Linked DNA regions of Homo sapiens. The protein of the gene in region 1 purifies or fractionates together with the protein of each later gene. This does not show direct contact. Each region holds a gene or a part of one and is shown in the gene's direction. Other genes may lie near its edges.

Region 1 (8,461 bases):
CTGCAGTGAGCTGAGATTGCACCACTGCACTCCAGCCTGGACGACAGAGTGAGACTCCATCTCAAAAAAAAAAAAAAAAAAATGATGCTGAAATTGCTTTTTTTTTTGAGATGGAGTTTTGCTCTTGTCACCGAGGCTGGAGTGCAATGGTGCCATCTTGGCTCACTGCAACCTCCGCCTCCCAGATTGAACTGATTTTCCTGTCTCAACCTCTCCAACAGCTGTATTTTCAGTAGTAAGGCCTTGGGAAGGTCATTAGGTCATGATGGTGGAGCCCTCATGAATGGGATTAGTGTCCTTATAAGAATTCTGTCAGACACAGTGGCTCACACCTGTAAGCCCATGACTTTGGGAGATCAAGGAGGGAGGATCAGTTGGGGCCAGGAGTTTGAGACCCTGTCTCCACAAAAAAGTAAAAGTAAATAATTAGCTAGGCATGGCGGCGAATGCCTGTAGTCCCAGCTACTCAGGAGGCTGAGGTGGGAGGATTGCTTGAGCCCAGGAGTTTGAGGCCGCAGTGAGCTGTGGTCATGCCACTGCACTCCAGCCTGGGTGACATAGTGAGACCCTATGGCAGGATCTCACCATTTTTTCCTCCAAAAAAAAAAAATTGTTAAAAAAAATTCCAGTATTGTGCAGTAGCTGGATGTTTCAAATTTTAAAAAGAAGAAAATAAAAAATAAAATAAGAGTCTTGATAGAACTTGCTTCTCCCTTCCACCATGTGAGAAGGACACAGCTAGATGGCACCATCTACGAATCAGAAAGTGGACCCTCACCAGACGCTAAATTGCTGGTGCCTTGATCTCAGACTTCCTGGCCTCCCAAACTGTGAGAAATAAGTTTCTGTTGTTTATAAGCTACCCAGTTTATGGTATTTTGTTACAGCAGCCTGAACTAAGACACGTTGCAACTTCCACTTTCCATTCAACATATATCGTCCCCATTTCTCTTACTCCATACATACAGATCTAAGTGGTTTTTATGAAAGTTCTTTAATAATCCATAGTTGGTATGTCCGATATTTTATGCAATAATCTATCAAATAGTGGACTTTCCTATTTTACATATGTAGAAACTGAGGATCAGGGCCGGGCACAGTGGCTCACACCTGTAATCCCAGCACTTTGGGAGGCCAAGGCGGATCACTTGAGCCCAGGAGTTCGAGACCAGCCTAGGCAACATAGTGAGACCCCCGTCTGTACATTTTTAAAATTAAAAAAAAAAAAGGCCAGGTGTGATGGCTCACGCCTGTAATCCCAGCACTTTGGGAGGCCAAGGCGCACGGATCACCTGAGGTCAGGAGTTTGAGACCAGCCTGACCAACATGGAGAAACCCCATGTCTACTGATAATACAAAAATTAGCTGGGCATGGTGGCGCATGCCTGTAATCACAGCTACTGGGGAAGTTGAGGCACGAGAATCGCTTGAACCTGGGAGGCAGAGGTTGCGGTGAGCTGAGATCGCGCCATTGCACTCCAGCCTGGGCAACAAGAGTGAAGCTCCATCTCAAAAAAAAAAAAGGAAACTGAGGATTAGGAAAGCCCAAGACCCAACATCAGGAATGTCTCCTAGTCCCAGAATCTCTTGCATTTGTACACCCCACCCCACTATGAACTCAGGCATAGTAAAATAATCCAAAATCCCCCATCAAATATTTTATATATATACATATATATGTGTGTGTATATATATATATATACACATATATATGTGTGTGTGTGTGTATGTATATATATATATATATATATATATATATATATATATATATATACATACACATATATATGTATTTCTATTTTATTTTAATTTTTTTTGAGACAGGGTCTTGGCTGTTGCCCAGGCTAGAGTGTAGTGGTGTGATCATGGCTCACTGCAGCCTCGATCTCTTGGGCTCAAGTGATCCTCTTGCCTCTGCCTCCTGAGTACTACAGGGATATACCTGATGTACTACAGGCATGTGCCACCACTCCCGGCTAAACTTTCTTTCTTTTTTGCAGTGACAGGGGTCTTGCTATGTTACCCAGGCTGGTCTTTACCTCCTGGCTTCAAGCAATCCTTCCTCCTTGGACTCTCAAAGTGTTCAGATTACAAGCATGAGCCACCACCACACCTGGATTGTATCATTATATTAAAGCTGAGTTTTAGTCAAGCAAGCCTTTGGAGTCAGACTGCCCAGGTTCAAATTCCAGCACCCGATGAGTGGGGTGGCTCCTGTTTGTAACCCCAGCACTTTGGGAAGCCAAGGCAGGTGGATCATTTGAACCCAGGAGTTTGAGACGAGCCTGGGCAACACAGTGAGACCCCAGGGGTCTCTACAAAAATTAAAAAATTACCCGGGCATGGTCACACATGCCTTTAGTCTTAGCTACCGGGCATTGGGGGGGCCGAGGTGAGAGGACCACTTGAGCCTGGGAGATCAAGACTGCACTGAGCACAGAACAGATTGCGTCCCTACACTCCCAGCCTAGGCAACAAGGCAAGACCCTGTCTCAAACAAACAAACAAATTCCAGCACCACTATTACCATCTATGAGAACTTGGACAAATTCCTAAAGTTCTCTATGCCTCGGTTTCCTCATCCATTAAATTAGGATGATGCTGCTACTTTACATATATCATAGAGTTATTGTCAGGGTTAAATGAATTAATTTACTGAATACACTTTACTGTAGCTATTATCACTGGCATTGATCTGTATAGGTATTGATTTGTATAGGTATTGATCTGTATAGGTATTGATCTGTATAGGTATTGATCTGTATAGGTATTGATTTGTATAGGTATTTGTTAAATACTTATTAAAGTTTGCAGTTTTGTTTTGCATTTTGGAATCCATAATTTGTTTTTATTTTGTTTCTGAGATTTATAATGCCTCATTTAAGCCTCTGAAAATTCCTAGGCCCTAAGCACTTCAAAGGCCACCAGCCCAACATCCCAAGCAGCCTGACACCAAGACAGGCACGCATAGCTAAAAAGATCCCTAGCCTCAGAGACCTTGGGGCTGAGAGGAGTCCTGGGAATAGGGAGGGCTGGGACTGAAATATTCAACCCCATCCCCACTTTTATGAGCAGCAGTTTCCTAACTGCAGTGGGTAAGGGTATTTGAAATAGATGCTGGGCCGGGCACGGTGGCTCACACCTGTAATCCCAGCGCTCTGGGAAGTCCAAGTGGGCGGATCACCTGAGGTCAGGAGTTCGAGACCAAAGACAGCCAACACGGTGAAACCCCGTCTCTACTAAAAATACAAAATTAGCCGGGCGTGGTGGCTCATGCCTGTAAATTCCAGCTACTCCGGAGGCTGAGGCAGAAGAATCGCTTGAACCCGAGAGGTGGAGGTTGCAGTGAGCAGAGATTGAGCCACTGCACTTCAGCCGGGGCAACAAGAGCGAAACTCCGCCTCAAAAAAAAGGCCGGGTGCGGTGGCTCACACCTGTAATCCCAGCACTTTGGGAAGCCAAGGCAGGCAGATCACCCTGAGGTCAGGAGTTTGAGACCAGCCTGGCCCAAAGTGGTGAAACCCCGTCTCTACTAAAAATACAAAAATTAACCGGGCGTTGTGGTAGGCGCCTGTAATCCCAGGTACTCTGGAGGCTGAGACAGGATAATTGTTTGAACCCAGGAGACAGAGGCTGTAGTATGCCGAGATCGGGCCCCTGCATTCTAGCCTGGGCAACAGAGCGAGACTCCGTCTCAAAAAAAAAAAAAGAAAAAGAAAAAGAAGAAAAAAGAAATAGATGCTGTGGGTATTCAGATCTGTCAGAGTGCTAGCTCAGCCTAGCCCTTCAAGTAGCAGAATAAAGGAGGAAAGAGCATCCCAGGCCTTCCCATCCCCATTCAACTCCCTCAGTTAGAGTGGTCCTAAGATTGCGGTGGGGGGGTAGGGCTGTGTTGAAGAGGTTAAAAACAGAGATTAGTCAGATCCAATCCTGCTCCCACTCTATGGAGGAAACAAATTCGAATACATAGTCACAGCCCAGGCTCTGGGATTGAGAGACAGAGAGAGAGATTGGATTGGAGAGAGAGAGAGAGAGAGATGGGATTGGAGAGACAGAGAGATAGATGGGACTGGAGAGACAGAGAGAGGGGTTCTGTGGCTCTGGAAGCCTAGAGAACAGAGCCTGAAGACAGAGAGGAAAGGGAGTAAAGGGGAGGCATTTATGCAGAGATCTCAGAAGTGAATATGAAAGGCACCCCTAGCAGAACGCACAGCTTGGGCAAGGAGGCTTGCTGGCATGAAAACGCAAGAAGTGCTCAGGCAGCTGTAATTCTCCAGGACATCAGATAAAAGGTAAAAAACAGATGGGAGACGCGCCTAGACAGGGTATTGAATACCAGCCCGAGGGGCTTGGGTTTCATCCAAACAGCAAGGCAACTGAGCTCAACACAGTGAGACTCGGTCTCCACAAACATTTTTTTAAAAATTGGCCGGGCCTAGCGGCGCGCGCCGATAGTCCCAGCTATTTCTGCAGGCTGAGGCGAGAGGATCATTTGAGCTCGGGGAGGTCCAGGCGGCAGTGAGCCAAGATCCTGCCACTGCACTACAGTCTGGGCAACAGAGCGAGACCCTGTCTTTAAAAAAGTAAAAAAAAAAAAAAAAAAAAAAGAAAGAAAAAGAAAAAAGAGAGAAGGGCAAGTCGCTCCCTTCTCTGGGCCTTGGCATAAATCAAGCACAAATCAAAGTCTCACTCCCTCCTCCTGCCGCGCAACGGCGCGGAGAGCCAGCCAGCCAGCCAGCGGAACCACGGCCTGGTAACCCAAAACCTGCACACCCTCCAGCTCCCCACAGGACGTCACGTATTACCACCGACGCACGCGCAGAAGCCTTCCCGGGGACTCAAGAAAGGGCAGGCTTAGCCTCCTCCCCATGTCGCCCCTCATTGGCTAGAAACTACTGCTCGTCTCGGTCGTTGTTAGCAGCGACCAGGGCGGGTACAATCTTGGTCGCTAGGACACGGCTAACTTCCGCTTTCTTCCCCCTCTCCTAGGCTCAAACTAGTCAAATCTTGTTCACTCGACCAATGGCAAATCGGAAGTGGGCGGGACTTCACAAGTCCGGACCAAAGAAACGCGAGCTTAGCCCTGGGTAGCGCGGCCAATGGCCGTGGAGCAGCCCCTGTAAACTGGCTCGGGCGCCCCCACGCCCGCCCTTCCTTCTTCTCCCAGCATTGCCCCCCCCACGTTTCAGCACAGCGCTGGCCGCAGTCTGACAGGAAAGGGACGGAGCCAAGATGGCGGCGGCCGACGGCGACGACTCGCTGTACCCCATCGCGGTGCTCATAGACGAACTCCGCAATGAGGACGTTCAGGTCCGGAGGCTACGGGGGACTTGGGGAAGACGCGGAGGGGTACCTGGGGGCACGGGCGGCCCTCGCGGAGAAGACTCAGCGTTCGCTGGGAGTGGCGGAAGGGGGCGACGGCCAATCAGCGTGCGTCTCTTATCTCCCCGGTTGCCCGGACTCCTTGAGACGGCGCTCCCGATTGGGTGTCGGCCCAGTGGAGGGCGGGGGCCAGCGCTAGCCTCGAGGGTCCCGGGCCTGCCCTGTGCGCGCGGCGGTCCGCGGTCCTGGGAGGTTGTGGCCAGGGCTGGGGTCTGCGGACTGGGTCTGGGAGAGAGGAGGACTCCGTGATTGGCGGCGGCCTCTGAATGGCCTCTTGGGGATGTGGGGCGCGCATGACTTGCTCCAAGTAGGGGAGGGCCGCCGGGTGGGTCGGGACCTGGGAAGGTTTTTTTGTTTTCTGGGTTTCGACTGCTGGGCCAAGTGGGGACCGAGAGGCGAAGGCCTGCCATCCTAATTCCTGCTCTTCCTCCGCCTCTCATTTTGGTTTAGGTGTCCTAAGAGGACGGGGACGCAAAAACACCCCCCCACCAAAGGTGGGGACTAGCCAAGTTTAGGAGCGAATTAGGTTGTAGAAACCCGCCTCCCCATCTCCCCGGATCCTCCCATTGACCAGGATAGGGGTTGAGGGATTTGCTAAGCAGATGAACATTTATTTATTTCTTTTTTTTGAGACAGTCTCTGTGTCGCCCAGGCTGGGGCTGGGGAGCAGTGGCGCGATCTCGGCTCAGTGCAACCTCTGCATACCGGGTTCAAACCATCCTCGCCCCTCAGCTCCCTAATTAGCTGCGATTACCGGCGCGAGCCACCACGCCCGACTAATTTTTGTATTTTTAGCAGAGACGGGGTTTCACCATGTTGGCCAGGCTTGGTCGGGAACTCTTGACCTCAAGCGATCCACCCGCCTCGGCCTCCCAAAGTGTTGGAATTACAGGCGTGAGCCACCGCGCCCAGCCCGGATGAACATTCCTGGTTATGGGATGAGGTGACCCAAGGCTCTGAGCCGGGCTGGTGTGGGATTGAGAACAGTTAGAACTGCAAGTCCACCTCCCACCTGCTGTGTGACCTTGTGCAAATTACTTCACCGCTTTGGGTCTCTGTGTTCCATAAAATATGGGCTAATTGTAGTCCTGGTCTTGCTGGAGGGACTTGTGAGGGACTGAACGAATTATGACACAAATAAAAAGTAGAATGGTGTCAGGCCTGTTGTAAGGGCTCGATAAATATTAGCTGTAATTATTGGGAGTGGTGATTAAAGAGGTCCCATCCTCCCTTTAGGTCTGTTTTCCCATTTATAAAATTGGACAAGGTGCACTGGGTAACCTGCCAAACGTGGGTCTCGCCTCCTAGGTTCCTGGTATATCACTGTTTCTGGTGGCATACAGGTTGTGGTTGTATTCCCGGCCCTTCCACTTGTTACTGATTGACAAGGGCAAGTTAGTTAATCTCTCTAGGCCTGTTTCCTCTTCTCTTTAATGGGGTTAATTACCTAGTTCATAGGGCGGTTGTATGAATTCTTTTGTTCAGTAAATATATGCCATGTATGAGATATGATGCTGGGGATATAGTGGAGACACCAGTTGCTATACAGGATCCAGATGTGAAACAGGTCAGCAGAGCTGAATAGATGAGTGTTTGAAAAGTGATGGGAAGGAAACAAATAGGATGTAGTGGTAGCGAATCCATATTGAATTGGGCCTCTATTCTGTGCAGGGCGCTGTTCTAAGCACTGGTATATAGCAGGAACAAGACAGAAAAAACTCTAGGCCTTGGGGAGTTTATTTTGTAGTGAGGAGAGACAGACAATAAACAGAGTATACTGGGGATAAGCATTAGGGAGACAAATAAAAATAAGAGAGATGGGGTATATATAGGGCATGCAGTTTTAAAGTGTGGTCAGGGGAGGCCTTGTTGAGATCCTGTTTGAGAACACGCCTGAAAGCAGAGGGCACAGCAAGTACAAAGTGGGGTGGGGCAGATCCATTTTAAGAAGGCCAATCAGGCAAGGCCCCTCTGAGGATGCAGAGTTTGAGAAGAGATTGAAAGAAGGTGGGGGAGAGCCTCCCAGGAAGAGGGAACAGATATGTAATGGCCTTTTTTTTTTTTTCTTCTTTTTTTGAGACGGAGTCTTGTTGCTCTGTTTCCCAGGCTGGAGTGCACTGACGCGATCTTTGCTCACTGCAACCTCCACCTCCCGGGTTCAAGCAATTCTCCTGCCTCAGCCTCTTGAGTAGCTGGGACTACAGACGCAGGCCACCACGCCTGGCTGATTTTTGTGTGTGTGTTTTTAGAAGAGACTGGGTTTCCCGGTGTTGGCCAGGCTGGTCTCAGACTCCTGATCTCAGGTGATCCTCCTGCCTCGGCCTCCGAAAGTGCTGGAATTACAGGCGTGAGCCACTATGCCCGGCCAGTTTTTTGTTTTTTTTAACTCCAGGATCACTTCCTTCAGCTATCTATCCTCCCATCTTTTCATTCATCCATCCATCCACTAACCAGCAGACATTTGTAGGGAGATGTCTTTGTGCCAGGATCAGAGCTAGGCAGCTTACCGGTTTATTCTAAAGAATATTGCAAAGGATACAGATGAAGACACATGCAGGGTGAGGTGTGGGGGAAGTTGTGTGGAGCTTCCATGCCCTCCCTAGGCATTCCACCCCCCAGGAACCGCGAGGTGTTCATCTGTCTGGAAGCTCCTATGGCTGCTTTTGTGCTACAGCCCAGAGTTGCATGGTTGTAACAGAGATGGCCGCAAAGCTTCAAATATTTGCTGTCTAACCCTTTGCAGGGAAAAAATTGCTGACCTCTGACTTAAACCATCTGCGTAACAAATTATTGGGTGCTTGCTCTATGTTAGGTACAGTACAGAGGAATATCACTGACGATCTTACTGAATTCTCACAATCACTCTTTGAAGTAGGTCCTGTCCTTGTCCACATTTTCCAGATGAGGAAACTGAAGCACCATAAATAACATGGCCAAAGCTGTGCAGCTGAGAAATGAAGGAGCCAGGAAAGGAAGTAGGACCTAAGGGTGGAATAGAATCTGGGGTGGGACACACGGTTGCTGATTATATTCATATGCCAGACATTTTAATTGTGTCTGAGACAGTTCAGGATACTAG
Region 2 (7,753 bases), on another chromosome or scaffold:
GGTATTAATAACATTTGTTTATTTGACCTAACTATATTCGTTCATTAATTTTGTGAATATTTATTAAGTGCTCTTGTGCTTTTATATACCAGGCATTATGCTGAACTATAAGGAAGAGAACAAAACAAGATCCTTACCCTCACAGAGTTTACATTCTAGTAAGAATTAGATTTTAGATTTTTTGTTCTTTTTTTTTTTTCTTTTTTTTGAGACAAGGTCGCTTACTCTGTTACCCAGGCTGGAGTGCAGTAGTGCAATCACAGCTTATTGCAGCCTTGACGTCCTGGGCTCAAGCATCCTCCTGCCTCAGCCTCCCAAGTAGCTGGGATTAAAGGCACACACCACCATGCTCAGCTGATTTTTTTTTTTCTTTTAAATTTTTTGTAGAGACAGAGTCTCCTTGTGTTGCCCAGGCTGGTTCAAACTTCTGGGCTCAAGCATTCCTTCTGCCTCAGCCTCCCAAAGTGCTGGGGTCACCATTGTGAGGTACTGCATCAAACTCAGGAATTAGATTGTTTTGTTTTGTTTTGTTTTGTTCTTTGTTTTTTGAGACAGAGTCTTGCTCTGTCACCCAGGCTAGAGTGTAGTGGCATGATCTTGGCTCACTGCAACCTCCGCCTCCTGGATTCAAGCGATTCCCCTGCTTCAGCCTCCCCAGTAGCTGGGATTACAGGCATGTGCCACCATGCCCAGCTAATTTTTGTATTTTCGGTAGAGATGGGTTTTTGTCATGTTGGCCAGGCTAGTCTTGAACTCCTGACCTCGTGTGATCCATCCACCTCGGCCTCCCAAAATGCTGGGATTACAGGCATGAGCCACCATGCCTGGCCGATCTTTAAATAGATTTGCATTTTGCTTTTTCTGTTTAATACAGTTGTCCTGTTTTTTATATATATATATAAAATCATGTGTACATATACCCATGTTCATGTGTATAGTGTGCTAGTCAGGGTTCTCTTAGGGGAACAGAACTAATAGGAGATCACCTGAGGTCGAGAGTTTGAGACCAGCCTGGCCAACATGGTGAAACCCCGTCTCTAGTAAAAATACAAAAAAATTAGCTGGGCAGGCCGGGCGTGGTGGCTCACGCCTGTAATCCCAGCACTTTGGAAGGCCAAGGTGGGCGGATCATGAGGTCAGGAGATCAAGACCATCCTAACATGGTGAAACCCTGTCTGTACTAAAAATACAAAAAGAAATTAGCCAGGTGTGGTGGTGGGCGTCTGTAGTCCCAGCTACTCGGGAGGCTGAGGCAGGAGAATGGCATGAACCCGGGAGGCGGAGGTTGCAGTGAGCCGAGATTGCGCCACTGCACTCCAGCCTGGGCGACAAAGCAAGACTCTGTCTCAAAACAAAAACAAAAACAAAAACCCCCCCAAAAAATTAGCTGGGCGGGCCGGGCGTGGTGGCTTATGCCTGTAGTCTCAGCACTTTGGGAGGCCGAGGCAGGCGGGTCACCTGAGGTCAGGAGTTCGAGACCAGCCTGGCCAACATGGTGAAACTCCGTCTCTACTAAAACTACAAAAATTAGGCGGGCATGGTGGCGGGTGCCTGTAATCCCAGCTACTCAGGAGGCTGAAGCAGGAGAATTGCTTGAACCCAGGAAGTGGAGGTTGCAGTGAGCCAATATCGTGCCACTGCACTCCAGCCTGGGCGACAAGAGCAAGACTCCATCTCAAAAAAAAAAAAAAAAAATTAGCTGGGGGTGGTTGCAGGCACCTAGAATCCCAGCTACTCAGGAGGCTGAGGCGGGAAAATTGCTTGAGCTGAGAGGTGGAGGTTGCAGTGAACTGAGATCGCACTACTGTACTCCAGCATGGGCAACAGAGCAAGACTCTGTCTGAAAAAAATAAATAGGTAAATAAATAAATAAAGTTTTAGGTATAGTTGTTTTTTTCCAAGGACTAATTTTATCGATGACATCTAATTTCAAGTACTGAGAACATGGTCATCTAGTAAAATAAGCTGTTATTGTGAGTCTGCTTTATTAATGTTTTAAAATGAAAGCCTCTTAAGACTGAATGAGAATACAACATAGGAACATATTTCTATGTTGTATTCAGTTGTCCAGCATTGATCTGTGAACTCTGTATTAAACTTTCAGCAAGAGGCATTTGTTGAAAATTACGTTTCTGCCAGATATAGTTTTGGCCCTCTGTTATATTTTCAGAGAAGAACAAAATCAATGGTATAGCATGCTAACTTTCCAGTTTTCTTTTTGAGTTGGGTCTTCTGTTGCCCTTGGTAGCATAGCATAATAAAATGCATGAAGGTAGACCAAGTGATTTTTTATTACTGCATATTAATTTGGATTTATTTCTCTTATTCAGAAGGAAATGTACAGATTACAGCTGAAACTCTGCTAAAATCCGCCGAAGTACAAGGTATGAAGGTCAATGGGACTAAGACGGATAATAATGAAGGACACAAAAATGGCAATGTGAGTAAAGATCTCTCAGCTGGATGCGGTGAATTCCAAGAAGTAGACAAAATCATGACCAGTGATGAGGTTTCAGAAACCAGCACATTAGTTACCCCAGAACCTTTAACCTTTGTGGACCCTGTATTAACAGAAGCAACTCCTAAAGAAAAAGAATGTGAAGAATTAAAAAGTTGTCCTTGGTTGTCATTACCAGGAAACAGTGCCATTTCTAATGTGGACAATGGGAAGGAAGAGTTGTGTAAACCAAACCTGGTCTGTGAAGCAGATGACAATCACCAACAGCTTCATGGCCACCATAATGAACAACCCAGTTCTACACATGATAGTCCCACAGCCACAAGCCCTTTGAAAGAAAATTCTGAAGTTTCATGTTTCACATCAGACTTGTCTGGTCCAGAATCCAGAACAATATCCTTAGAAAACTGTGGTTTTGAAGGTGGTGGTTTGCTAAAGAGATCTGCTGAAAAGACAGACAGTTCTTATTTTTATAGGGGGGATGATCAAGGGAAGAACTTGGCTTCTAGAGAAGAAAATGAGGAACGGCTTTTGATTCCTAGGAGTGAAAGAGGTGGACCTTTTCTTTTTAATGCCAGGGAACCAGAAAAGGAGATTAGTGGTCGTTGTTCTGGTGAAAAAGAGCCTGTTGTTTCTCCAAAGGAAAATATCCACAATAACTGCATTCAAGACAGTCTCCATACAGGGAACTCTAGTTCTTTAATGCCCAATTCTTTTACTGAAGCCACAGAAGTAATGTTAAATAAAAATGATTTGAAAATTACTGTACACGTTCAAGGTAACTTGACAAACCCTGAGGACCATAAAGAAACTTTTACTAATATGAGCCATCCTGGTGGACACTCTGAAGAAAGCAGTTTTTCCTCCTTGATGCAGATTGAAGAGGCAGGACAGACAACCCCTGTAGAGCCCAATATATTAAGTAAATCTTTTTACACTAAAGACTGTAACTCCTTAGTCAGCATCCAGAGAAATCTGGAAGGCAACACCCAGTTAAATGAAGCATCATGTAATGATTTTCTGTTTGAAAGAAAATCCATTGTGAGTTTAATGCCAGAGGATCAAATAAGTCCTGTAAGTGAGGTATTAAAACCCAAGCAAGGTACTGCTCTGTTGCTACCATCCCCAGAATTTGATTACAGACCTGAGTCAGAAAAAGTTATACAGACCTCACATGATGATATTCCACTTTTAGATGAACAGAGCATAGCCTGTGAGATGAATGAACTTTCTTGTACCAATGAACTGGTTGTAAACAAAGTAGAAAGTGAATGTGTTTTAAATCAACAAGTGTCCCTTAATTCTCAAGAACATGCAAATTTGCCAACTGACTCTCTACTGCATTTAAACAAAGAGATGCCTTTAGCAACAGGCAGAGATGCCCATCAGAGCCATCACCCTCCATTAGAGGGTAGAGCAGATGTCATTGCTGATATACAAACCATTCCCATTCAGACAAAAATAAAAGACATCTCTCCACCAGGTAACCAAACCTGTGGTGCCTCTTCAAACTGTCCCACCTTAAACATCAAACCAGTAAGCCTAGAGAGAAAAAAGGAAATGGCTGATTCAGGAACAAAAGCTCTACATTCCAGGCTGCGCTCAAATAAGAGAGAAGCAGCTGGCTTTCCTCAAGTGGTCTCTGTCATAGAATGTCACAGCGTTCAATCTCAGGATATCTCTAGCTGTCATCGTGTAAGAAAAAATGTATCCCAGGAAAACATGTGTTCTGCTTCTGCTGCTTTCAAGTCCAGCAAAATCAGCCTGCAAGTTGATAACTCTTTGATAACAAAATATGAAAATGCATTTCAGCACCGTGATCACTGCTGCCAAGGAACAGGACACTCTGTGGAAAAAAGCAGCTGTAAAGTGAGTTACACATCACAGGAAAGGGAACTTGATGGGAAAGAAACGAATGGCAGCCTTCCAGGAGATAAGATCAGAAACAAAATGGTAGCAGGCTTGTTAAATAGTGGAATTTCAAACAAAACCATTCACACCTCCAGTAGCATCAAACTCAGTGAGGAAGGGCTGGAAGGAAAGGAGCAGGATGTATCCAAAGAAACTGTATTTTGTAAGTATAACATCTCTGATCATGCTATACAAGAACTAAACCAGACTGTAAACATTCCAGGTCCTGAAAAAGTGTTGGACCAGTCTCCTACTGTTATGTTCTCCAGTTTTAAAAATGTAAAATCAGTTGAAACACTCGATCAGAAGGCAGATGAAGTCCTTGACTGTCAGAGTAACCAAAACAGACCAGATGAATGCAAAAGTGAAGGTCAGTCAGCCAAGGAGATGCTAAGTAGTGACCAGAGAGAGACTGTCACCGAGCCTCACGGGGAGGTAAACCACAACCAAAAGGATCTGCTGGTCAGCTCAGGCAGTAATAACTCACTACCTTGTGGTAGTCCAAAGAAATGCAATTTGAAAGGAGCCTTTGTCAAGATGTCTGGTTGTGATGAGTCCACAGAAGGTATGGTAGACATCGTCTACACGGACTGTAGTAATAAGCTTGCAGAAGGTGTGCTGGACGTGAAGGCATCTAATCTACTGGATTGTGGTGCAAGGCAAGAGAAACTGGCATTTCAAGAGGACTCCAGGAGTACCTTGTCTCGGAGAGAACTGGATGCTGCACATACAGGAACAACTGGTCAGGATTCAGATTTCCCAGTTACTGCTGCTTCTACAGTGGACTTTCTCAAAATAAAAAAATCATGTGAAGAAAACGTATGCAGATCTTTAAAAGACTGTGAAATGGAAAAGTGTCCAGACTCTTGTGCCCATGAGATGGAGTCTGTTGCAGATCATGAACCAAATAAAAGAATATTGGGCAGAGTAAATTTGTCTTTAAATGATAGCCATTATGGACAGCAAGATAAAGGAACATCTCTCAGAGAAACACAAGAAATGACTGAAGGATCAAGACTAGAACCAAACTCTGAGTTTGGCAAAGAAAGTACCTTTGGAATTTCCTCAAAAGAGTCGATGTCTTGCCATGATGAAAGCTCTGTTTCCCTAAGAAGCCTGAAATCCATTGAAATAATGCCTTCTCAAGAAAATTCAGAAACTAATGTTAACAGTGAAGAAACTGACCTGAAAAATCTTTGTAAACCAAAAGATGGTGAAATGCTTTGTGAAAATGTAAAGGACTGCACAGTCCTTCCTGAGATGAAGGAAATAGTATCAAGAGATTGGAGTAATTCTAGTGACAGAGACAGCGTATGTACCTGTGTGGAAAAGAATGCTTGCAAAGCTTGTCACCCTCACGAGAATTCCTCTGACAGACATTTGCCTTTGACAGTGAAAACAGATATTAAAGTGAAAGGAGAAGAAACCGAAGAGCATCAGAGGGGACGACTGGGTTACTTAACTGTTGGGGAGCAATCTGAGGAGTTGGTTACCAGAGAAACTGGCGATGGCGATCCCGTGAGCAACATCTCTCAGACCCATTTTAAATGCCGGGGGATACTTAATCATGCTGAAAAACAGCAGAGCCCTGAGGTTTTGGACTACATGTTGCAGAAAGAAGAGAAATATATACGTCAACAAAAAGCACATACGATATCGCAACAGTGCATATCATCTAGTCTGTTGTTAGATGATGCACAAAATCAGAACCAACCGAAGGCTGACAAAGATGAGTCCACCATGATCAATGAAATCACCCTAGCAAAGCTGGCCAAGGACAGCATTGTGGCACAGACTCAGAAGTTAGAAGACCAGAAGGAGGAAAGGTTACATCATCCATTAAGGAAGGACACTGAGTCATGCACAAGTCCTTGCCTTCTTGGTGCCCCTCGGAAAGCACAAGACCCCTCCTCTGCTGGGTGTGATCAAATACATGGTGCCTTTGCGAAGAAAGGAGTTCTTCCCTTAAAGAAGCAGCCCCATCGAACTTGTAAGAAAGTTTCCTATCAGGAGCAAATCATTGTTGGGAGAAAAATAGGTAAAATCAGAAGTTCTGCCTTTTTAAAGAGTTCTTCCAATCCCATCCCCACAAAAGCGCACAGACTTCTCAGTTTGTGTACTCTGTCTGCACCTACACGATTAGAACCTGAAACAGCACCTACCAAGAGCTTGGTTAGTCACATACCAAAGCAGATGTCTACACCGTGCCATCCCTTGAGGAGCCTGAATTTTAGGAAGACTACCAAAGAATCAGCCTTACTAAACAAGCTGTCCATCCTTGCCTCCAAACTGGCCCCAGCCATGAAGACTCAGAAGCTAAGATACCGACGGTGTTCCTCTGAACTTCTTCCAATGGCTAAAAGCTACAAGCGCCTCAGATATAAAAGACTCCTGGACGGATTTTCATCCAGCACAGAGCAGCTGAATCCATATTTGGCAGCTAGTGGATGGGATAAGAGGCCTAACAGTAAGCCCATGGCACTTTATTCTCTCGAATCCATCAAGATGACCTTCATAGATTTGAGCAACAAGATGCCGTCCCTGCTGTTTGGTTCTGAAATCTTCCCAGTATCCTTTCATGTGAAATCATCCAGCTCAGATTGCACGACTGAGTCCTCAAGGACTTTTCCTGAGCACTGTGCTCCGGCAAGGCTTGCCTTAGGAGAGGCCCTCCAGTGCCCGTCTCAACCTCCCAAGTGGACCTTTTCTTTCTTCTTGTCCCACGGTTGCCCTGGGATGGCAACATTCAGGGAAGACACTGGCGTCCATAGTCAGACCCACACTCAGGCTCCTCCCCAGCCTCCAGCTCCTCTCCAAGACTATGGAGGCACTGCCATAGTCCAGACCAGAGCAGACTGCTCTGTCCTTGGCCTTCACACACTTCTAGCACTTTGTTCCCCAGGATGTTACCGAATCTGGACAAAAAAACGGAGCTTCTCCAGCCACATGCCTACCATGCAGAGGCTCTTCATGACCCAGTTTACACAGGGCCTGAAAGGGTTACGGTCTCCAGCCTCCATAGCAGACAAGGTCTTCTGTTCTCTGCCCTACTCGGTGGGCAGAGTCCTATCCATTTGGAGCCAGCATGGTCCTTCTGTCTGCTCCTTCGAAATCTCTTCTCTTCATTCCCCTCACTGCAAGCGGCAACCAAGTCTGGGCACCACAAGCAGGTAAAATCTGTCCCCTGTTCTTTACAAATGTCCCATATTTGCTTCCTGTCTCTGGGGAGATGAGAGGGGAACTGCGGGAAATGCAAGGCTATTTAGAGTCCTCTTGGGTCTGCATTTTCTATTTACCTTGCGAAATCTCTGCTGAGAAAAATCCAATAGTAATTCTTAAGCATAGGACCCCCACCCCCTGCTCAGTTTTCCTGTAGAACCTACT
Region 3 (7,747 bases), on another chromosome or scaffold:
AAGCTGGGAAGTACAAGGGCTGTCTAAAGATCTTCTTGTTCCCATCCCGCATCCAATTTCGTTCAGTCCCAACTCGGGCTGGCATCATCCACCCACTTTAATGTCAGCCCCAGAATGGCTCTTCGAAGGCTTGGCATAGAGCATCGTCCGCTTCTCCACCTCAGCGGGGCACAGCAACTCACCTCTTTGATCAAACAAACGTCCATCCCCTCAACCTCAGCCTGGCACTGTCACTATCTTTCCTTACAGTCAGGCATCCCTCTTTCTTCCCCAGCTCTACGTGACACTGCTTCAGCTCGCAACCACCTTCTTTCCCTCATCCCCCAAATGCCGTTTGGCAATGCATCCAACTCCCACTCCTCTGGGCAAATCTAGCTCTACCTAAGACCCTCTCTGGACCTAAGGCCCTCTCACTGGTGTCACCCACGGTTCTCCTCTCACCCCACTAGCCTGGCCCATACTACCCCTTCCTCCGCCACCCCGCCAACCCACAGCGATGCCCCTCTCCACTCCGTCAGTCTGGCAATGCCACTTCCCCCACCCCCTCCCACCCCCCAGCAAAGGCTGACCCACAGGCCCCGTTGTCTGCGAGTGTCTGTTCCTCACCCGGCAATCACCGCCCCGATGAGGTATAGCAGCAACAGGCAAAAGGTGCTCAGGTTCTGCGGAGCCATGGTTCCTCTGTCCCGGGTCCTGTTCCACACACTCCTCACAGCCTCCTCCGCCGCCGCGTCGGCTCGCCAGCCCACCCGGCCCTGTGAGGCCGCCTCACACCGGGGGGGCGCGGGGGTCTCCTTGGTCCGCAGAGACAGCTAGCTAGCCCCCTCTTCTGCCGGTCCACTTCCCGGGAGTCCCGAGTCCCGGTGAGAGAAGCCCCCGGTAGGCGAGAGCCAATCGTTGCCCGGGACATCACACGCGGCCGGCGCCTGGAAGCCAATCAGCGCAGTACACTTCACCTCCGAGGCGGCACGGGCAACCAGTTAGGCTTCAGAACTGCAGTCGCAGCTCTTGACCAATTAGAAGCGGAGACGTCAGAGGGTCGCGCCGCTGCAGGAACCCGCTCTGCCTGAGCTACCGCGAGTCGTAGAAAATTACGTAATGATAGGGGGCCGGTCAGAGTGAGGGCACCTGAGGTACACGAAATCCCTCCGGCTTGCCCACTTCCTCGGACTTTCCACCAATCAGGAGCTTCCTCCCCAGCACCAACCAATTGTGGGAGAGAAGTTTTCTCTGTGCTACAAGCCCGGAATTTCATTCATACCCAGCTACGCTCCGAATGAGGGAGCAGAGGTACAGCGGCCGAATGAGCGGGAACAGTTATTCCACGACAGGTGTACATCAGACGCATTGCTTAGGCCTCTTATTTTACGTTCTCCAAGCAACTCCATAAGACAACTGTCTCGGAAAGGCTACAGTGATGACAGACCGACTTAAGTTCGGATTCGGCTTCCACCGCTTCTTAGTGGTGAGACCCCCCACCCCTCCCCTCCTCCCAAGTCTGAGCCTAAGTTTATCAACAAAACTGAGGCAAAGCACTTATTGGCAGTTCTGTGAATTTTAACAGGGAAAAAAATCGGTAAATCATCGGGCGTATAGTAAGCAGGCAACGAGTAAAAACCATTATTACGGTTCAAGCAGAACTCTTTGATTCCCCATCTTCCCCCCGATTTTGCTCATCGCAGTTACACAACACCTAGTTGATCAGGACAAAGCTCTAGGTGTTTTTATTCCTTTCATGCATAAGCTATCCAACTCTTTACCTCTGAACTATACTTCAATCTGTTCACTACATCTCCATTACCAGGATTCTGGGTCACAGTGTATCTCTCACCTGGCCAGGGCCTCCTAACTGGCCTCCTTGCCCCCACTCTTAATATCTTCCTTAATATCTTAATATATGTTGCTCATCCCTGTCCCTCACTCCATGATTTAAAAAAAAAAAAAAAAAGCCCGGGCGCGGTGGCTCACCCACCCAAAGTGTAATCAGCACTTTGCGAGGCCGAGACGGGCGGAGCACCTGAGGTCAGGAGCTTGAGACCAGGCTGGCCAACATGATGAAACCCTGTCTCTACTAAAACTACAAAAATTAGCCAGGTGTGGTGGCGAGCGCCTGTAACCCCAGCTGCTCGGGAGCCTGAGGCAGGAGAATTGCTTGAACCTGGGAGGTGGAGGTTGCAGTGAGCCGAGTTCCTGCCACTGCACTCCAGCCTGGGCGACAGAGTGACACACCGTTTCAAAATAAATAAATAAATAAATAAATAAAAAATAAAAGTCAAATCATGTCACTCCCCTGTTTAAAAGCCTGGAATGGCTCTTCATTTGCACTTAGAATAAAATCCCAACTCCATGCTAGTTTACAAAGCCGTTTATGCTTTGTAAACCTATTATACTCCTAACCATGCTCCAGCAAAACTTGCTTCCTTTCTTTTTTTTGTATACACCGAGCTCATTCCTGCCGAGGGCCTTTGTGCTAGCTATTGCCTTTGCCTGAAACACTGTACTCTCCCTCATGTGCTAGCATGGGTGATTCCTTCTTTAACTCATATATCAGCTTAAAGGTCGCCACCTCAGGGAGGACTTTCCCTGACCAATTAATCAAAATTAGCCCCTACTGAGTTCCTTACTCTTACACCACCCTGTTTTCTTTTCTTTATTTCTTTTTTTTTCCTGAGACAGAGTCTCGCTCTGTCGCCCAGGCTGGAGAGCAGTAGCGTGATCTTGGCTCACTGCAACCTCCGCCTCCTGGGTTCAAGCGATTCTCCTGCCTCAGCCTCCCGAGTAGCTGGGACTACAGGCGCACACCACCATGTCCGTCTAATTTTTTTGTATTTTTAGTAGAGACTGGGTTTAACCATGTTGGCCAGGCTGGTCTCGAACTCCTGACCTCAAGTGATCCACCCGCCTCAGCCTCCCAAACTGCTGGGATTATAGGCATGAGCCACCACGCCCGGCCTCCTATTTTTTTCATCCCTGGTCCCTAGACTTACACACTGAAATGCCAGTTTCATGAGAGCATGAATCTATATTGTTCTGTTCACAGCTGTATAAAAGAGCACCTTAGAACAGTGCCTGGCATGGAGTAGGTGCTGAAGTACTTTTGAGTCAAAGTTACTGGGATGGTGATCATTGTATGGCTGGCTTCTTACTCTTCAGGCCTCAGCTCAAATTTGGCACCACAAAGTGGCCTTCCCTGACCCCCCGCCCCAATTTTCATAGCATTTTTCACTATTTGAAATTATCTTATTTTATTCCTTAATATGTATTGTCTATTCTCCCTGTTATACACTCCAAGAAAGCAAGGACCTTGTCTGTTTTGTTCACTTCTGTCATTCTAGTGCGTACCACTGTGCCAGACACACAGTGGTACTCAACAAGTAACAGCAGGGTCACTGAGCTAATAAGTGGTGCAGCCTGGATCCTAACCCAGGTATGTGTAAATTTGAAGCCCCTGCTTTCAGGAAGATACCCAGTAGGGACAATGGCCACACAAAAGAGGAACTAAATTGCATTTTACGGTCTAATTTACCTTTGTATCTATCACACCTAGAGAGGCCATAAAGGAACTAAAAAAAGCAGGAAATGTCCAGAAATTCTGAAATGGAAGTTTAAAGGAAGGAGTGATGGCTTCTGCCCGGTAATCTGAAAAAGCTTCATGAAGGTGGAAACACGGCAGGAAAGCTAACAGAGTTAAGGAGCTGACACCGAGGGGCGGCAGGGAGTGCCAGTCTTGCTTCAGACGCCCTGGGCTTGAATCTTGGCTCCATCTCTTGTGTGACCTTAGGGTTGTGTTATTTTCACCTTTCTAGGCCCTAGTTTCTTCATCAGTAAAACGAATGTACTTAAAGGGCTCTTGACAAGACTTAGGAAATACACATAAAGTTGCTTTACACAGTGCTGAGACCATAGTAAGTGCTCTATAAATGCAAACTGCCATTAGTATTAGTAGCATTTCTGATGAAAGCGTGCTGATCTTACCAGCAGCTATTAGCTGACCACAGTTATGCGGAGCAACAGAAAGCTTCCTACCCCCCCGGGTTGAAAGGCGCGACACCAGAAAGCGGTGGGTCTGGCTCCAGGTGCCACTGTTGCGGACTCTCGACCCCAGCCTAGATTTTCTCAGACGCTTGAGCCGCAATCTGCCGCTCTAGCAACGGGGTCCGCCAGGTCTCGGTGGTGCGGGGCCTCGCGCTTGCGCAGTGGGCACGGCAGCGGCGCGCGGAGGAGGGTGAGGGGCGGGCCCAGCGAGCGGACGCCGGGCGCGGCGGCGCGCGGAGAAGTGCGGCGGAGCGGCGCCTGCATTAGCAGGTAACCGCGCACTGGGTGCGCCGGGGAGGGCGGTGTGGGTTAGTCAGGCTTCAGGCTTGGGTCGAGGAGGCTGCCTTCGCGCTTACCGCGTCTCGGGTCAGCTACCGACCCTGTCAGCGTGAGCGTCTGTGTTCCTGAAGTCCGGTCGCGACGCTGGGGCGGCCCACGCAGAGTCCCACCCCGGATCGCGTCCAAGGTGGCGGCGAAGCCCCAGGACAGCCGCCTTGGACCCACGCCGATCTCCCGACCTGAAAAACCTTAACCTCAGGGCACCGCCAGGGTCAGAGCCCCAGTTTATGTTTGTTTACGGATTGAGCCCTCTCGATTCTCGGAGTTAGAATGGAGGGCTCATCTCTGGGATCTGGCTGTTGACAGGGGCTCAGTACCTCACAGAGCAGCCTCTTTACATTTTGGAGAGAACCGAGGTCTTCCTCGCCTAACTTTTATCGTCTGGTTTTACTCAAAACGACTCCAGTCTCTCCACATTGGAAGACAGCTGCCTTTTGCCCTTCCACGCCCTTCTTTTGAGTTTACTCTCCCTGGTTCTTTCACCTGGCTTCCTGTCTAAGACTCTTTATTCTGGAAATTCTCTTCTGGATCCACTCCCGTTTTTAAGAGATTCTCCCAAAACTGGATTCCTAGAGTACATTTATAGTAATGCAGTTCTCAAGTCAGACCTGAATCCTAATCTAGAGCTGTGCCAGCTAAGTAGGTGTCCTTAGGGAAATCCCTTAACTTCGCTAAGCCTCATTTTTTTTTCATCGAAAATGTGTACAGTCTTAAGTACTGTATCTCCAGGTGGTTGTGAGGATGAAAGGAGGTGAAGTATGCAAAATCATGAGCATGATACCTGGTACATAGTAAGCACTCGATTGATGTCAGTTATTTTTCCGAACAGATGATTCTCGAGAGAGGCACAGTTGGCAGGCCGGGTGCGGTGGGTCACGCCTGTAATCCCAGCACTTTGGAAGGCCAAGGCAGGCGGATCACCTGAGGTCAGGGAGTTCAAGACCAGCCTGGCCAACATGGTGAAACCCTGTCTGTACTAAAAAAATACAAAAATTAGCCTGGCGTGGTGGCGGGAGCCTGTAATCCCAGCTACTTGAGAGGCTGAGGCAGGAGAATCGTTTGAACCTGGGAGGTGGAGGTTGCAATGAGCCGAGATCGAGCTATTGCACTCCAGCCTGGGCAACAGAGCGAGACTCCGTCTCAAAAAAAAAAAAAAGAGAGAAGCACAGTTTTCTTAGAATCAAATGCAAAATATAATAATAGCAATAAAATTTTCATCAGTCATATAATTGATTTTTTAAATTAGTTTTTATATTTTTAAAAAAATGATGTTGCTAATGTTGAGGAGTGCACAGTGAAGTAGGTACCAGAGTCAAAGGATGGTACAATTTGATAAAATCATTTGGAAGCAACAAGGATATATTTCACAAGCTTTAGAAATGTCAATTACTTAATTTCACAAAAGTACATCTGAAAATTTTCACACAGAAATAATTCGTAATGCAGAAAATATGAAGAAAGATGGTAGTGATAGCATTATTTACACTTGTGACAACATTTGAACTTTTGTAATGAAATTTTTTAACATACACAAAAATAGAATCAGTGAGCCCCCCACGTACCCATTACCCCACTTCAATAATGATCAGTATTTTGCCTATGTTGTTTTTGTGAAAAATCTGAAACCTAGTAAGGTGTCTAAAAATGGGAGAAGAGTTGAATAAAATGGGATACATTTATTTAGAATACTATAAAGCTTTTGAAACAGTACAGAATTGTGTATGTAACATCACAACTGTGAAAATTCAAAAACTAACATCTAATTTATGTGTAGAAAAAAGACAAAGAGGCCAGGCATAGTGGCTCAAGCCTGTAATCCTAGCACTTTGGGAAGCTGAGGCGAGGGATCACTTGAGGTCAGGAATTTGAGATCAGCCTGGCCAACATAGTTAAACCCCATCTCTACTAAAAATACAAAAATTAGCCAGGTGTGGTGGTGGACGCCTGTAGTCCCAGCTACTGGGGAGGCTGAGGCATGAGAATCGCTTGAACCTGGGAGGTGGAGGTTGCAGTGAGCTGAGATCATGCCACTGCACTCTAGCCTGGGCAACAGAGGGAAACTCCATCTCAAAAAAAAAAAAAAAAAAAGAAGAAGAAGAAGGAAATACAATAAAATATTAATTTGTTGCCCTTTACTTGTGGGATTGTGGATGGTTCCCTGTTTTTGTATTTTATAAATATTCCATAAAAATCATGTATCATTGTTACAACAAAAAAAAATCTAAAAAATCACACCTGAACTGAGCAGGATCAAATATGCTAGAGTGGGTTCACTGTTATAGAGAATAAAGATGCTGTAACTTCTCCTGATCTATTCTTGCAGTCTACATTTACATTAGCATTCTTGCCTGCTGCCTCACATTAGCACTTCATATTGAATTTATATGCTCAGCTAACATGTCCAGATCTTTAACCAACTGTCTTCTGTGTAAGTGATTTAACTCTGTGAAATGTATTTCCCTTATTTTGAACAGTGTTCCCCCTCAGAGTAGAAAAAGGTTTCCTGTGATAGGATGACTTTTTTCCCCTCATTCATTTTCTTCCTGGGATCTCACTCAGACTTCATGCATCTACACACACTTCCTAAAACAAGGATTTCTAACAATTCAAGTAAGATAATTTTGTTTTATCACAATTTTTTTCTCAGATTATAATGAGATCTGATTAAAAAAACTGTTCTGCTCTTGGTTGGTGAACTAGAGCTGCCTTTTAAGATGATGATGTAGTACATATGACACAGTTGAGAGAGAGGGGTCACCTTCCAAGAAAAAATGCATAAATGAGACTTGTTTCAAATCAGTTTATGAAGAAACTTTGTTTCCTAGGTATGCAAAGAAGCCTTTTCACCCTGATGTCCTTAGAGATAATATGGATCAGTCCAGAGTTCTCCTCTGGGTGAAAGCAGAACCCTTTATAGTGGGTGCCTTGCAGGTCCCCCCTCCATCCAAGTTTAGTCTTCACTATCTCAGGAAGATATCCACCTATGTGCAAATCCGGGCCACAGAAGGAGCTTACCCGCGCCTCTACTGGTCTACATGGAGGCACATCGCTTGTGGGAAGCTGCAGTTGGCCAAGGACCTGGCGTGGCTTTACTTCGAAATATTTGATAGTCTTTCAATGAAGACACCTGAGGAGCGCCTGGAATGGTCTGAGGTTCTGTCCAACTGCATGTCTGAGGAGGAAGTTGAAAAGCAGAGAAATCAGGTACGGATTGATATGTGTGTATACTTAATTACTTTTGGAAAGAAACCATTCTTTTTTAAATTAAAAAATGTTTTTGCTTATTACAATTTTTAGATAGAAACAGAGTTTCACTTTGTTGCCCAGGCTGGTCTTGAACTCCCGGCTTCAAGCAGTCTTCCTGCCTCGGCCT
Region 4 (8,550 bases), on another chromosome or scaffold:
ATTTGCTACATTCCAAGTAACATTCTCAAATTAGTTATAAAAAACAAGCAGATACTTCCAGTAATCAAAAGGGGACTTATACAAGAGTGACAAAAAATAGCATAATTTCTTCCCTTCCTCGTCCCCGTGCCCCAATACAGGCCTTTTGCTATTGATATAAATTATTTATCACTTTTAAGAATAAGGCCCTTAGTGTTGACCTTCCCACTTCTAATAAATGTGGTATTTTTAAAAGGGCATGCTTCATGTGGCTTAGAATAGCATCTGGAAGAATACAGCTAACAAATTGTTAACAGTAGCATTAGACTAAGTATTTGTGATGGGGCTAGAGAGGACTTTTACTTTCCTCATTTTTGCTTACCTGAATATATGCAATGAGCATGTGTTTCTTTTATCAATCAAAAAAATCAGTCGGGGCCGGCATGGTGGCTCATGCCTATAATCCCAGCACTATGGGAGGCCGGACAGGAGGATCACTTGAGCCCATGGGTTTGAGACCAGCCTAAGCAACACAGGGGATCCGAGGTATACAGAAAAGAAAAAATTAATAAACAAAAATAAATTAGCTGGGTATGGCGGTGGCACATGCCTGTGGCACATGCCTACTAAGGAGGCTGAGGTGGAAAGATTGGTTGGGCTGGGGAGGTTGAGGCTACAGTGAGCCGTGATTGTGCCATTGCACTCCAGCCTAGGTGACAGAGCAAGATATTGTCAAAAAATAAATAAATAAAAATAAAGATAATTTTTAGAAAGAAAAAACCCCAGCATGTACTTTGGATCTAGCATGGTGACTTATTTTCAGTCACTCAATCGAATATTAAGATTCTTAATGTTTTTCTTAATGTTTGAGCCTGAGCCTTAGTTTCCTTACTTACCTATAAAATAAGGTTAATACTTAATACACAGAGATGTCATGAGGAAAATGCTAACCACATGGTAAATACACAATCATTAAAGTTCCTTCTCTGAGCCTCAATTTCCTTGCCTGTAAAATGTGGAAGCTGGATTTGTTGTCTATGATTCTTTCTGGAGTTATAATATTGTGATTCCCTCCTTTTATATTCACAGAAAAAGGTTGCTAAATGAACTTAATGTCTTCATTTGTCTTCAGGTAGTTACTTTTCTTTTATTTCCTGAATAACCAGGAAGCCACAAACATATGAGCAGTGCCTCTGGAATGTCTGGGCTACTCCACCCTGGGCACCTGGGAAATGACAGGGTATTTCCACTCATTAGAATCTCCCTGATGAAGAGAGCTTTCCTTAGTGGGAAGAGGACCTAACTTCAGTTGTAATAAGCCAGTGTGTGCCACTAAAAATGTTATATACTCTCAATTTTGGGCTTTGAGTACTCCCAGCTTTCTCTTAATTGGTTTGCTTACCTATATTTGCAATCCAGGTACTCTGCTGAAACAGTTATGCAAGTGTTCCATAATTTATTATATACCAAGTGTATGTCATTGGTCAAAGTCCAATTAGATCATTATTAATTAGAAAGGGCTGCTTATTAGTAGAGTTTACAGAGTTGTCTCCTACACATCAGAAATGCTAATAATTGCCCATCTTTGATGGTACTAGGATGATAATTTTACAAGTCTGTCTTTGCTTTTATAAGATTGAAAAGTGGCTTGGATCATAGCAGTGGCAATACTCATCAGACTATAAAAAGGCAGAAACTTAAAAAGGGAGAGAACTACAAAATCAGGAAACATTGCCATTCCCAATTTCTCAAAATATGACATGTTTTTTATTTAATAAAAATTTTGTGTGGATACAGAATCACAGAGAGGAACACCCACATGACTTAGAATTCAAAGTATCTCATGTATGAGATTTCTTAATTTAAGCCTTTTCTGTGCCTGCTGAATACCAGTGGGTGAAGAATGCCTTCAATGCCATTTTGGCATTTCTAGCACCCTGTGTAGCTTGATAGGATTCTTTATCCTGACATGTTATAGTAGTCCCAGCTTTTCTTGTAGAAGAAAGTCCACTCTGCTTAACATTAATTTTAAGAGATATTATAGTAGAACTGAATATAAACAGACTTTTTTTGTTTCCATATGTATGATTAAGTTTCTCTATATACAAACTAGAGATAAAACAACTTGCTCCTTACTATATGTGGAAGGCTGGGGGAATTCTTTCTATGAGCAATAATGATAAATATTAACATTCTGTGAGTGTCTACTATTTCCCAGCCACCATGGTTGGCATTTTGTATTCCATTGTTTTATTTAATCCTAAGAAGACTCTGTAAGGTATTATCTACCTTTTTCCTTCCCCCTTCCCAACCCCTTTTTTTTTTTTTTAAAAAAAAGACTAGTCAAGTGCAGTAGATATATGCTTTTTTTTTTTTCAGATAAGGAAGCTGAAATTTAGGGAAGCTAAATAATTTACCATTTATGGTGCTGGTAAAAGTATGCCATGTCTGATTCCAGCACCTTGACTTTCATTACTTCTCTTTGATCTTCTAGGAGGAAGATGGAAATGTTCTGAAGTCTGGTGCATTGCCTAGAAGTCCTTCAGCAACTGAAACCTCACTTCTGTCACTCTTTCTCCTCGTTTTCCCTTATCTCTTATGCTCTGGTGATACGAACCTACTTGCAATTCCCTTAAAGTCCTGTTCTCTCAAGTCTCTGGACTTTTGTTGGGATTGCTTCTTAGCTTAAAATTTCTTTATCCCAATAGCATCAGACTAGCTGTTCTAATCCTTTCAAGTTTCAGTTTAAACTACTCTGCCATGTTTCCACTACTCTTGACATACTCCATTACAGCAAGGATCTTTCTGTGTCATCACCTAAATCGAGCAACTTGAGGGAGTCTTTTTGTTTCTTCATTATTGTATTTCCAGGACCTTTCAAAATATCTATTTCACAGTATCAATTAAATGTTTATAGAATGAATGTATGAAAGAATGCATAAATGACTTGCTATTCGTGCAAAAAAAACTCATTAGGGATCTGTGGAGGGTCCTATCTTATTTTATTCCTTAACAGCCTAAAAGTTATCAGAAGTGAAAACTTTTCATCCTCTCATAAGAAAGCTTTCCAACATATCCTCATTTTGAATAGCATACCTGGAACACAGTGGTAGCTTGACACATATTTGTTGAATTGATGAAGAGCTTGAAAAACGAATATAACGTCTTTATTATATAATGCCTATTCTTTCCAGACTCACTTTGTGTCCCGCCTACTTTATCCTCTAATAATGAGTAACAGTATGTAATTTTCATTCATGCATCAAATACTTATTTATCCACTATTATGTGCCGGCACATTGGTGCACTGTTTCAAGTAGGCTCCTTCTTTTCCTTGCTATCCGTGTTTGTGGAAATTCATGAAACCATTCAGCGAATACCATATTTATTGTGGTTTTCCTATCTTCCTTCATTCAGTTCAGTTACTTCTCCCAGACCATCCCTGACCCCTTGGGCAGCTAGTGCCTGCCTCTATCTTAGCCCTGATTACATCAATTTCATGTTTGTCACTCCCTACCCTCATTTCTAACCCACAATACCGTTATGATCTCAGAAGGCAGGAATTGAAGTTTGGTTCAGTTATGTGTCCCCAGGGCCCAGCAAAAACCTAGGACACGGCCAAACTGTCTATATAAGTATTGAGATGAATAACTGCTACTTTTTCTTTCTTTCTTTCTTTTTTTTTTTTTTTTTGGAGAGACAGTTTCACTCTTGTTGCCCAGGCTGGACTGCAATGGCGCGATCTTGGCTCACCGCAACCTCCGCCTCCCGGGTTCAAGTGATTCTCCTGCCTCAGCCTCCCAAGTAGCTGGGATTACAGGCATGCGCCACCACGCCCGGCTAATTATGTATTTTTAGTAGAGACGGGGTTTCTCCATGTTGGTCAGGCTGGTCTCAAACTCCCGACCTCAGGTGATCCGCCTGCCTCGGCCCCCCCAAAGTGCTGGGATTACAGGCGTGAGCCACCGCGCCCGGCCTAATTGCTACTCTTTATTGAACAACATGGATTAACATTTTGAAGTCTCACCACATCAAGTGAATTAACTATTATTAACATGTCATCCATGAGAAAAAAGAGGCTTGAAAAAGTTTAGAAACTTGCTTAAGGTCACACAGTGGTGGAGCCTGTTATTGCAGGAATCTGAAGAATGAAGTCACCTTTGATTCTAAATGAGTAAGTCTCCTTCTCACTATTTTTTCTTAAAGTTTTCATTTAGCCCTTGCAAAGTCTTCCTTCTTTAGACCAATGACTCCTCATCTTGATATTGTAAGTGGGGGAAATACCCTCTTTTTTCACTTTGGAAATTATTCAATCTCTCTTTGGAAGAAACATGATTTTAAACTTTCTGGACGCTCCTTCTGTGGAAGAATCCGCGCAGGAGCCCTGGGGGCACATAATAGGTTCAGTGAGAAAGACTGTCATTCGAAATGGAATGCGGGAACTAAGATTTTTTTTTTCCGGGAAGAAAACATAACGAATTTAGCAGAGGGGAGAATGGTCCTTCTGTTAGGTGCACAAATCCTAAGACTTCAGGGAGTTTGGCGGCTCACACTTAAGGTAGCTGCGGGTGACTGTGTTGCCCACAGCTAAGATGGCTGCTAATGACCATCTCCTTTGGCTGGGTCTGTTCTTTTGCTCGCTAGTATTTTCATCGAGAATTAAACAGAATAAAATTTAGTAAAAGTTGGCACCCCCTTGCTAAGTAGATAAAATAAGAAGGTGGCACTGTTTGTTTGAAAAACCTTCTACGGCGCAAATTGTTCTTGCCCTTAACCAAAATGGTCGTTAAGGTTGTCCCGAGGTTTGAAGCTTCCAGCCCTTAACTAAGATGGCGCCTGGAGGCCCGTTAAAAATTACCTTGCCCTTTTTTCTGCCCTCTACCAACACGGCTTCCGTGGCGTCGTTCACGTGACATTCCTGGACTACGGCGCGGGAGAGGGGGTAGGAGGGCCCTTGAAGGGTGCGCGTTCCCGTGGCGGTGCACCGGGTAGGTTTCAGTCAGAGTCACTATGGCGGCCGGCGCTGGCAAGGTAAGCTGAGGCGGTGGTGGCGGCTAGGGAGGTAGGACCCGTCGTGGCGTCCTGGCTCCAAATCCTCGTAGCCTGCTTGCGGAGAGGTCGGCGGAGGTCGTGCCTAGCGGTGTGGGCTGGCGGGGGTCTGGCTGGAGGGGGCGACGGCTGAGGCGGGCGGGCTGAGGCGCCTGACGGCCGTTTGTTTTGATGTTTTCCCCACCAGGTCGGAAAGTTTCCTGCCTCGTCGGGCGCAGCTTGAGCTTGCCCCATCGGCCGCGATCGGTGGAGGCTGCGGCGGATCCAGCCCGGGGCCTCAAGGCCTCTCCCCAACCTCCGGGCCAGTCTCCCTCCCCCACCTTCTCGTCCGCCGGGAGCTGCGGCTGCCGTCCCTGAGATGCGACCCTCGCGGGGGCGACCCTGAGGGGAGGCGGCCCATGTGCTGAGCGGCGGCCCAGAAGCCTAGGCGTCCGGGGACCAACTTCCTGCCGCCTGGGAACTCGAGCCTCCCGGTGTCGCGCCTCGCTCGGTCCGCACCGGCCTGCGGAGCCGGGTCCCCGCCCTGGTCGCGGGGACGCTCGCCAGGTGCCCAGGAGTCCCGACTTGGCCACTGCCCGCGCCCCGCCGGCCTCCACGCCTCGCGCGGAGAACCTCAGCCACCGCCGTCTCGGATCGTGCCAGGCCGGGGACCGCGTCCCCCTTCCCGGGGCGGCCTCCGCTCAGCAGGGGCGATGCAGACTGTCCCGCCGGCCGTCTAGAGCCCCTCCGTCTCCGTCACCTCTCGCCCCTTCACTCCGGGCGAGGACTGGCGGTGGCTGCCCAGAGGTGCCCAGCCACACCTTCCTTCGGCCCAAAAGGACTTTCCTGGCCGCGCCGAACCGACCCTTCATTCATGCTGCAGTGCTGCAACGTTTCCGCCACCAAGGGGGAAAAGCGGCCGCGATCTCAAACCAAACACAAGAATTGGCGTGTGACTCATCTGCTTGGATACCTCCAGTCCCCAAACTGTGTTCCAGGAGTTTTCTTGGCCGAAGCTGCCCGATGTTTGAGCCTTTTCTTCCCAGAGAAGAAGATGGACTGAAAGCTGCCAGTTGGGGACTTTTTGTGATCACGGCGTTGCAGCGTTTTAAAGGAGGTGATGGGGCTTGCGCTGGCTTGTCTTCCCACCCAAGTGAAGAGTTGATGTTCACTGGTTATGCTTAGACAATGTGCAGTTTGTGTTAATTTAAAATTTTGGGTGGGATAGGGGCATAGGCTTGTGAAGGGCAGTCCGGATCCGGAGGAACTCCTCTTTGTCCCTGGTAGGAGAGACACCCCCAGTCTATCCTCGATGCCGTCAGCCTTGGCCATCTTCACTTGCCGCCCGAACTCGCACCCGTTTCAGGAGCGTCATGTCTACCTGGACGAGCCCATCAAAATCGGCCGCTCAGTGGCCCGCTGTCGACCAGCGCAGAATAATGCCACTTTTGATTGCAAAGTGCTATCAAGGAACCACGCTCTCGTCTGGTTTGATCACAAGACGGGCAAGGTAATGTCACCACATTGTCCAGCGGCATTGTTTAACAAACTTTTTTTCCCCTTTTGCCCTCCCTGAGAGGACTAATGTATGCAGGATCCCAGGGTTTGCATCCAGAGGAGGCTTTGCGCAAAGCCACGAATCAACTGTTTGTGTGCCTGGTTCTAGTGGAAATTTGATTGAGGTGGTTGAATGGAAAACAGAGAAGGTATTGTAATTAAAAGCCTCAGGAGGGCTATGGCATCTTGATAACGTGGTCATTCCCAGTGAAATCCCAAACTAGATAGTGAAACTTGGCGTCTTGCTTTTAGTCTGTTTAGAAAGGTGAATTCACAGTTCAGCGCTTTATTAAGCAAGCAGCAGTTCTCGAAGCAATTCGGGGAATCCGTGGCCATTATTATCCCGGGGCTCAAGTGTCTTAGTGGTGAAATGTAGTTAACACATAGCTTTAGGTGAGTTCAGATCAGGACCTTTCTAGTAAGGATAATTGCTGATATAAACCTAAGATTTTTGAAAGGTTTGATACATACTTGCCCTTGGAGGAGTAATTTGCAATAATCAAAGCTAATTTAATTAAGCATGAACAACTGTAACTTTATATATTTTCAGAGTTTTTTTTACAAGTTGGAGAACATACACATATTGCGTTTGAAAATCACTTTTTGATGTTCCCTGCAGCACTTATTAAGTACTTAATGCATACTTACAGAGGTGCTATTCAAAAGTTAGTGTTAGGAAATAAACTTACTTTCTGAAATTATACCCTATTCTGTCAATTATAGCATTACTTAAATGTGATACGATGAATTCAGTGCTTTTCATTTTAAGCGTAACCAATTTAGTATTTTTATGTTAGTATCGTAAGTTACTATACATGTATGTGCTTTTATTTTAAGAAGTGAAGAAAGAAATTAAGATCCTTTCCATTTTTAAAAACTGTTTATTTATGTTTGTGGAGAGTATACTAAAGAGCTCATCTTTGTGCCTAAACCTCAGGTTTTTAGCTGAGCTACTGAATCAGTTCCAACTTTAAGTTATGTAAGACTAATAGGACTGTCTCAGGTTTCACCTCCTGACTTTTTGCCCCTCTTTCTGAGTTAAATAATTAAATCTTTCTTAAAGGAAGAACTTAAGTCTTCAAGAATATGTTTTGAAATGAAAGAAACCTGAGCCTCAAAAGGAAGAGAAAAAAATGATACTTCGGCAGCTACTGATTTAAGGAATTATTTTGTAAATTATTTTTTAAAGAAAGGAGGAAAAGATTGTCCAAGTGCTGTGTGCTGCATAATATCTATACTTTACGTGTAGGATGAGAACTGAAGAGTATGTTAACTTTTCTGTTTAACACCAGATCCTCATTTACCTGTGGAACAGACCCTTCACTCGCTCCTCGCAAGCTGAAGTTAGGGTGCCTAAAATACTTCATAGATTACTCGTAATCCTTTTTTTTTTTTTTTGAGACAGATTTTTGCTCCTGTCACCCAGGCTGGAGTGCAGTGGCGCTATCTCAGATCACTGCAACCTCTGCCTCCCGGGTTCAAGTGATTCTCCTGCCTCAGCCTCCAAAGTAGCTGGTATTACAGGCACACGCCACCATGCCTGGTTAATTTTGTATTTTTAGTAGAGACAGGGTTTCACCATGTTGGCCAGGCGGTCTTGAACTCCTGACCTCAGTTGATCCACCTGCCTCAACCTCCCAAAGTGCTGGGATTACAGGCGTGAGCCACTGCACCTGGCCCTCATAATTCTTTAAAATGAATATTCATAGAACTCATTTTTCCAGCAGTTGAATTCAAACATCAGTTTACTACTAAGTAGTGCCTTAACTCAACCAGCTTTTACATTTTCACCATTTTATGTTCTTGGGCAACAGGTCTAAACTAATCAGACAACAGGTTGGCTCACAGTACATACTCTGCGAATGCACTTTCTTTGATGAAACACTCGAAGGGGACTCCCATTTTTTGTTTTACTTATTTGAAAAATACTGATTTCATGCCCAGTGCTTTCCATGGCTGTACTAAAACTCTCACAATAGGTTATTT

What was found.
Region 2: the proteins of PPP2R1A (region 1) and PRR14L purify together in Homo sapiens (affinity purification with mass spectrometry; 5 studies listed by BioGRID and IntAct, with this or other methods). This does not show direct contact.
Region 3: the proteins of PPP2R1A (region 1) and TBCCD1 purify together in Homo sapiens (affinity purification with mass spectrometry; 5 studies listed by BioGRID and IntAct, with this or other methods). This does not show direct contact.
Region 4: the proteins of PPP2R1A (region 1) and SLMAP purify together in Homo sapiens (co-immunoprecipitation; 5 studies listed by BioGRID and IntAct, with this or other methods). This does not show direct contact.

What each region holds. Positions count from the first base shown.
Region 1 is NC_000019.10:52,184,865-52,193,325, forward strand, and holds the start of PPP2R1A (serine/threonine-protein phosphatase 2A 65 kDa regulatory subunit A alpha isoform), read left to right. Parts: upstream 1-5,187; 5' UTR 5,188-5,232; coding exon 5,233-5,310; intron 5,311-8,461. UniProt on the Homo sapiens protein: The PR65 subunit of protein phosphatase 2A serves as a scaffolding molecule to coordinate the assembly of the catalytic subunit and a variable regulatory B subunit.
Region 2 is NC_000022.11:31,711,869-31,719,621, reverse strand, and holds part of PRR14L (protein PRR14L), read left to right. Parts: intron 1-2,330; coding exon 2,331-7,539; intron 7,540-7,753.
Region 3 is NC_000003.12:186,563,825-186,571,571, reverse strand, and holds the start of TBCCD1 (TBCC domain-containing protein 1), read left to right. Parts: upstream 1-4,232; 5' UTR 4,233-4,305; intron 4,306-7,199; 5' UTR 7,200-7,242; coding exon 7,243-7,578; intron 7,579-7,747. Other genes in the region: DNAJB11 (dnaJ homolog subfamily B member 11 isoform 1 precursor), read right to left, coding at 607-674. UniProt on the Homo sapiens protein: Plays a role in the regulation of centrosome and Golgi apparatus positioning, with consequences on cell shape and cell migration.
Region 4 is NC_000003.12:57,751,333-57,759,882, forward strand, and holds the start of SLMAP (sarcolemmal membrane-associated protein), read left to right. Parts: upstream 1-4,976; 5' UTR 4,977-5,010; intron 5,011-5,215; 5' UTR 5,216-6,319; coding exon 6,320-6,517; intron 6,518-8,550. UniProt on the Homo sapiens protein: Associates with the striatin-interacting phosphatase and kinase (STRIPAK) core complex, forming the extended (SIKE1:SLMAP)STRIPAK complex.